Linked DNA regions of Homo sapiens. The protein of the gene in region 2 purifies or fractionates together with the protein of the main gene of each other region. This does not show direct contact. Each region holds a gene or a part of one and is shown on either strand. Other genes may lie near its edges.

Region 1 (3,823 bases), on a different chromosome or scaffold from region 2:
CTAAAGCGGATAAGAAACTTGCCCAAAGCTACACAGCTGATGGTGGAGAGCACTGTTAGTCACAATTCCTGCTCTTCGAAGAACAGGACCCATTCTTTTATTCCTTCCTTTTGTGCCATGGAGAACACAGGCTGTGGACCCACTGATGTACTTGTTAGGCAACCACTTTGACCGGTAATTTTTCTCTCCCTCCTATTTGATGGGAGTAGAGGTCAGTTAGGTGGCTAAGAGATTGGTCCAAGTCTAACATCAATCAGAACAAGGACATGGTACAACGAGAGCGTTGAATGAGTTTATGTTATACTTTCAAGTGCTACTCAGGTTGTTTGATGGGGCTGGGTAGGTAGGAAGAAGAATGTCTATGATGCAAGGAGTAGGACGCTCATGGGGCCATGAGACCAGGGCAGGGCTTGGTGTATGAGCACATGGCAGAACATGTGACCATATTTCAACCCATCTGAGATGCGGAGACTCCTGTCCATGCATCATTCTTCCTCAGTGTCTTTGCCATGTATCTTTCCAGGGTTGGAATTGGAATGCAAGGCACGGAACAGCAGAGAGCAGGGTCCGCACTATAATCGTGTGGGTAGGCATTCCACAACTGTGTATAAAAGGCATACAATATGGAAGGTACAATTGGTTTCTGGCTTTGGAAAGCTTGAAACAGCTGTAGAAGCATCTTCTTTTGTCGGAACAGAGATTTTGGTAACCTTGAATGAACACGTGTTGCATCACATTTGCTTTGATTTTTTGAGGCCTGCTAAATCAAAGCTTAATTGTGAATCAAATGACCACGGGCTGGAAACCTTCCTCCCTTTTATAATATTTGAATCGTAAAGAATTTATTTTAATACAGAAGGCTGTGGCTTGAGGAAAGAATACAGGTGGAAGCCTCAGAAAAGCTAACATAAAATAAGAATTCTTCCCCTGGACATAGATATGACAAAAAGCTCTACTGGGGCTGTTGGATGAGGACAGAGCTGGAATTTTCAGTTCGACGCCACTAGATTTGTTTTGTTGTTAATGTTTTTAGAAGTTGGCTCAGTTGTGTTTGGGAGAGGATATTTAGCAAAATGTCGCAAATACTGCCACCCCACAGGCATCAAGATCTGTCCAAGGCTGCTGCCTCTGGTGAAGCAATTCTTTGTTTAAGAAGAATGGACTCATTCAGGAATAATCCATTGATTTTCCTTTTAATCTTGTCAGGTGGGGGAAAAAGGTTTGGGGCGGGGGGAATCTCATAAATTCTGGGAATTAGTTTTAATGACTTTATAAGGAAATAAACTTTGGGAAAAGACTGATTAAAATGCAAGGAGAGGCTCCCCTTTCAAGCTAAACAGGCTACTCGGACACTTGGTAGTAATTGTCCACCACATCCTGGAGCCACATCACATGGTCTCACCCAGCCTTGAAATTCAGCTTTGCTTATGATCTATGCCAGGTGAGAGCCTCAGCTGACAAAAAACAACTTGGTAGCTGTCTTCTCCTACATCAGTAAGACAGCTGTCAGGCCTCCAGGATAAACTTTAGGGGTTTTAGACTGAAAGATGTTTAACATTTGATTTTAAACAATGGGAAATTTTATATTATAGAAACTTGAGAACTTAAAAGAAGACAGTCTCTTTTAAGTTCTCAGGTTTCTATAAGGTGTTTTTTTCTTTTCCGGAGGTGGGGGGTGGCTAACAATTGATTGTAAATATAAGAGAGAACGTGTATGTGTTTTTTTCCTGACAAAGAGCTGGAAGGATGTTGCCGATGGCAGGTACTGGCTCTTTAGGGTCTGTACTAGATTTAGTGGGTCTTCTGACTGACAAGAAGTTTTTAACTGAGAAGAGTTAAGATGAAATTGTTAGATAATAAGACAAAGCTGGGTGTTTTCCACACTTTATTCCATGACAGTTATGTCAGGGGCTAGGGCCAGGTGTGAATTAAATGGAGACCCTTAAAGCAGTGGTTCTCTGCTTTGAATGTGTCTAAGAATTGCCTGGAGAACTTCGTTTAAAATCCTCAGAATCAAGGACAGTGGAGGGGAGCCTGGGACACAGGTGGGTGGGAGATTCTGAGGAATGGCGCTGCTCTAGTGTCCCTGGAAAAGGAGGAATCAGACATTGCTGTGAGGCACAGGGAACAGAAGGAACTTGAGCTCCTATATCTGACTTTCTGCATATGTGTCCATGAGATCCTGAGAGATCTGATTCCTAAGGAGAACATGTATGTCCATGAGATCCTCAGAGATCTGATTCCTAAGGAGAACATGTATATCCATGAGATCCTCAGAGATCTGATTCCTAAGAAGTACATGTATGTCCATGAGATCCTCAGAGATCTGATTCCTAAGAACATGTATGTCCATGGGATCCCCACAGAGATCTCCCTGAGGAGCACATGTCCATGAGATCCACAGAGATCTTCCTGGGACATAATACATCTATGTCCACATGATTCTCAGAGATTTGATCCCTGAGGGCATATGTGTCCATGTGATCCTTGCAGAGATCTCCCCGGGGAGCACACATGTCCGTGTGATTTTCACAGATATCTCCCTCAGGGGCACATATATATCCATTTGACCCTCACAGACATCTGGCGCCTGAGGAACATGTGTTTGTCCATGTGGTCCTCACAGACCTCCCTGAGGAGGGGCTCATTATCCCAGCCTTCAGGGTGAGGAAGCTGAGGCTCCACATGTCTCAACACTAGAAGGTGCCAGAAAAGGGCCCTTTTCCTTTCAGAAACATGTGTAGGGTTATGGTTCTCATAATTATTGAAGTAGAATGTATTGTTTTGGAGTTATTTAATCTCTCACGATGTTCATTAAAACTATATTCTACCCCTTCTCATTAAAGAAAGAAAAAGCCAGGATCAGCCCAGAACTATTCATTTTCAAAGACTGCAGCTTGACTGAATTTATTTTAAATGTGCAATGCTCTCAGATACTTCACATTGGCTTTTTAAAAAATTCACTTTTTATACAGACGTAAAATTGGAAGCATTTTTACTCCCAACAAATTCAAGATACCTACTTCCCTCTTTTTTCAGACATTTAGGGATATGAAGAAACCCCCTTAACCTCTCTTTTTACGATAGAATTTGTAGCATGAACCCTGCCTGTCAGCAGACAAAGTCCCTCAGATGACAGAACAGACTCGGCCACAAGCTGAAGCTCTGTGGTTCGCGCCAGAACCCGCGTGTTTGTGAAATTCAGAGGACTCTGTTTCCTCCCTCTTTTCATGAATGATGGGAGACATTTCCTAAGCTCCTTCCTGATGGGTGATTGGGGTGAACTGAAGCCTTCTGAGTAGGTAAAGCTGAGACTCACTTCTGCTTCACCTGCCTTTCTTTCACAGAGAAGGAGGGTGAAGCTATTTAAGATGGTGTTTCAAGTCCTAGGAATGGAACTGATTCAAATGGGGACCAAATTGGCTAAACTCCTGATACTGTCACAGAAAACAGTAAGTGCTAAACAATCCTTCCCCCAGCCCTGAAAATGGAGAACAATTTTGCATATTTACCTTCCCCCCTGGCAAAACTACTATTCAACCAGCCTTAATAAGGCACTTCACGTCATTAAAGGAGAACATTCCCCTGAAGCGAATCCTCAGAGGACATGAATAAGAGATGACTTCTGGTTATTTCCAGTGGGACATCTTGTGTTGCCATCTATATATATTAATGTCATCACAGATGAGTTGCCTATTATAACACATTTCCTCTGGGAACCATTGGGTATTTTAATAATTATTGAATTATTTATTGCTCACACAAAGCAGAGAAAAATTCTCTATGAGCAAGAACTCTTCTGTTATGAAAAAACAAAACACTT
Region 2 (3,601 bases):
ATTGCTTGGGGTAGTGAAGAAGCTGACACGCTAAGGGTGTCTGAATAGTGCCTGGGAGACAGACAGGGAAGCCCTTAAATAAAAGTTTAGCTAGTATTATTTGAATTGAATAAACTTCCACCTTATGATTAAGACACCCTAATTTGATGACTGACTATACTGCAGCTTGACAGGACACACATGCTCTTTGAGACAGGCCCCCTAGTCTTCTTGGGAAGCTTTTTTTTGCACCCAGTGTGTGTCATTGAGTGCTAGCTGCGTGGTACTGGCTTGGCAGATGGCCATGTGTCCTGACGACAGAGCGTTTCTCCTTAGAATAAGACTGTGAGGGACACACGGTCAGCCAGGTGCCCCTTCACTAAATCCCGTGGAAAACTCAGGGCCCATTCAGTAGGGATACATTTATTTCCCTTCGGGATTTGGTCTGTCTTCAAAGAACTCCAGGATTTCATCAACACATAGTTGAGAGCCAGCGCTCTGTGGCCGCTTATAAAGCAAAATGAGATAAAATCTAGAAGCACTGCTTGTGGGCCTCACTGGCATGAGACAGTTTGAACCAAAAACAAAGTAAATAAAAAGCTGTGTCTTGTACACAGTGTGAACTCTGACTTAAAATGTAAATAAGTCTATTTAACAGCTCTTTATTAACAGGTATTCACAGGTATTGGCATCTCAAATCGCTTTTGGAACAGTTTTGTTAAAACTAATGAAATAGTGCCTGTCTCTTTCACCATCTATCTTGAATATCAATGAGACAATCCGAAGCACTTCCCTGACCTCACCTAGTCTCTGGGCTGTGGGAGGAGTAAGGAAGAGCTGTCCGTTTGGATTTGGGCTGAGAGGGACAGCTATTCTTTTGCCGGTGCACGTTAACTCAGCTCCTTTGGGTCTGTGTTACAGGGATCATGTACCGCAAGTCCTGTGCATCATCAGCGGCCTGTCTCATCGCCTCTGCCGGGTACCAGTCCTTCTGCTCCCCAGGGAAACTGAACTCAGTTTGCATCAGCTGCTGCAACACCCCTCTTTGTAACGGGCCAAGGCCCAAGAAAAGGGGAAGTTCTGCCTCGGCCCTCAGGCCAGGGCTCCGCACCACCATCCTGTTCCTCAAATTAGCCCTCTTCTCGGCACACTGCTGAAGCTGAAGGAGATGCCACCCCCTCCTGCATTGTTCTTCCAGCCCTCGCCCCCAACCCCCCACCTCCCTGAGTGAGTTTCTTCTGGGTGTCCTTTTATTCTGGGTAGGGAGCGGGAGTCCGTGTTCTCTTTTGTTCCTGTGCAAATAATGAAAGAGCTCGGTAAAGCATTCTGAATAAATTCAGCCTGACTGAATTTTCAGTATGTACTTGAAGGAAGGAGGTGGAGTGAAAGTTCACCCCCATGTCTGTGTAACCGGAGTCAAGGCCAGGCTGGCAGAGTCAGTCCTTAGAAGTCACTGAGGTGGGCATCTGCCTTTTGTAAAGCCTCCAGTGTCCATTCCATCCCTGATGGGGGCATAGTTTGAGACTGCAGAGTGAGAGTGACGTTTTCTTAGGGCTGGAGGGCCAGTTCCCACTCAAGGCTCCCTCGCTTGACATTCAAACTTCATGCTCCTGAAAACCATTCTCTGCAGCAGAATTGGCTGGTTTCGCGCCTGAGTTGGGCTCTAGTGACTCGAGACTCAATGACTGGGACTTAGACTGGGGCTCGGCCTCGCTCTGAAAAGTGCTTAAGAAAATCTTCTCAGTTCTCCTTGCAGAGGACTGGCGCCGGGACGCGAAGAGCAACGGGCGCTGCACAAAGCGGGCGCTGTCGGTGGTGGAGTGCGCATGTACGCGCAGGCGCTTCTCGTGGTTGGCGTGCTGCAGCGACAGGCGGCAGCACAGCACCTGCACGAACACCCGCCGAAACTGCTGCGAGGACACCGTGTACAGGAGCGGGTTGATGACCGAGCTGAGGTAGAAAAACGTCTCCGAGAAGGGGAGGAGGATCATGTACGCCCGGAAGTAGGACCTCGTCCAGTCGTGCTTGGGTTTGGCCGCAGCCATGATCCTCCGAATCTGGTTGGGCATCCAGCATACGGCCAATGTCACAACAATCAGCCCTGGGCAGACACGAGCAGGAGGGAGAGACAGAGAAAAGAAAAACACAGCATGAGAACACAGTAAATGAATAAAACCATAAAATATTTAGCCCCTCTGTTCTGTGCTTACTGGCCAGGAAATGGTACCAATTTTTCAGTGTTGGACTTGACAGCTTCTTTTGCCACAAGCAAGAGAGAATTTAACACTGTTTCAAACCCGGGGGAGTTGGCTGTGTTAAAGAAAGACCATTAAATGCTTTAGACAGTGTATTTATACCAGTTGATGTCTGTTAATTTTAAAAAAATGTTTTCATTGGTGTTTGTTTGCGTATCCAGAAAGCAGTTCATGTTATCCATAAATCTGGTTTTGTCTTTTTTTGTTTTAAAGAAAAAGATGTATACATACAGTATAGCTGCATTAGATAAAGCAGTGTTTGTATTTTAAAGGATGTCTGCACAAAGAAGACCTAGTGATATTTTTAAATCAAATGGAAGAAGTGTCCCTTTGGCAACAAAGCAGCATATTTAATGACACTGGTTTTGCATTCAGTTTCAGGGGAAGCAAAGTCAGGAATAGCCTGTCGCCAAGAATGTTTTTTGGACATATACATACTAGGTATGCACACCTATAATCATGATGCTCATATCTGCAACAGCATATGTGTTTCTTTTCAGACACTTTTAGATCCCTCATGTGGGGAAAAAGAATTATTCAGAGATGGCAAATATAAAACTTCCTTCTAGTTCAGCCAGTAACATGTTCCCTTCCTTTGCAGCACTGAGCTGTGCTGTCAACAGCCCAGAAGCAATCAGGCCCTAGAGAAGAGACCACTCAAAGGCCCTTCTGTAGATCAAATGTTTACTGCATGTACATTTGTTTGCATGCCCACATATTTGTATTCCAACTTAAGTAACCACCACCAGTTCTGCAATTCTGACTGACAGAGATAAAGATGCTACATAGACCACAAACAACTGAAATCACAGGTATCATGAGAGTTTAGTTACAGTGACAAAAGCAAAAAAGAACAAAGGAAGATCAGGGGATCTGTGAAGCATTTGCTCTCTCTTTTCGTAAGGAGCCAAGACACCCACAGTAAATTCCCCTGTAGAGAGCTGCTACCTTAAAGCAGGATTTGCATTTTCAGAAATGCTTCCTTCCTCTCCTACATTTCAATCGTAGTAAGAAACATTTACTCACATTTTCAATCTTCTGATTTTCTAGAAACCCTAGGGAAGTGACAGTTGGCAATGAATGCTTCCTGCCTATGACCCATGGTAAATATTCTATTAATAAATGGGGGCCAGACATGGTGGCGCATGCCTGATATCTCAATACTCTGGGAGGCCAAGGCAGAAGGATCACTTAAGCCTAGAAATTTGAGACCCACCTAGGCAACATAGCAAGACCCCATCTCTACAAAAAAAGAAAAACTTAGCCAGGCATGGTGGTACATACACACCTGTGGTCTCAGATACTTTTTGGGGGCTGAGGCGGGAGGATCACTTGAGCCCAGGAGGTGAAGGCTACAGTGAGACACG

The links.
Region 1: the proteins of GPR39 (region 2) and SLC39A12 purify together in Homo sapiens (co-immunoprecipitation; one large-scale study listed by IntAct). This does not show direct contact.

What each region holds. Positions count from the first base shown.
Region 1 is NC_000010.11:17,954,855-17,958,677, reverse strand, and holds part of SLC39A12 (zinc transporter ZIP12 isoform 1 precursor), read right to left. Parts: intron 1-3,823. UniProt on the Homo sapiens protein: Uniporter that promotes Zn(2+) import from the extracellular space to the cytoplasm across the cell membrane. The transport activity is temperature dependent. May play a role in neurulation and neurite extension.
Region 2 is NC_000002.12:132,643,580-132,647,180, reverse strand, and holds the end of GPR39 (G-protein coupled receptor 39), read right to left. Parts: exon of another isoform or gene 2,081-3,601; coding exon 1,575-2,080; 3' UTR 1,137-1,574; coding exon of another isoform or gene 901-1,136; 3' UTR 599-900; downstream 1-598. Other genes in the region: LYPD1 (ly6/PLAUR domain-containing protein 1), read left to right, coding at 901-1,136. UniProt on the Homo sapiens protein: Zinc-sensing receptor that can sense changes in extracellular Zn(2+), mediate Zn(2+) signal transmission, and participates in the regulation of numerous physiological processes including glucose homeostasis regulation, gastrointestinal mobility, hormone secretion and cell death.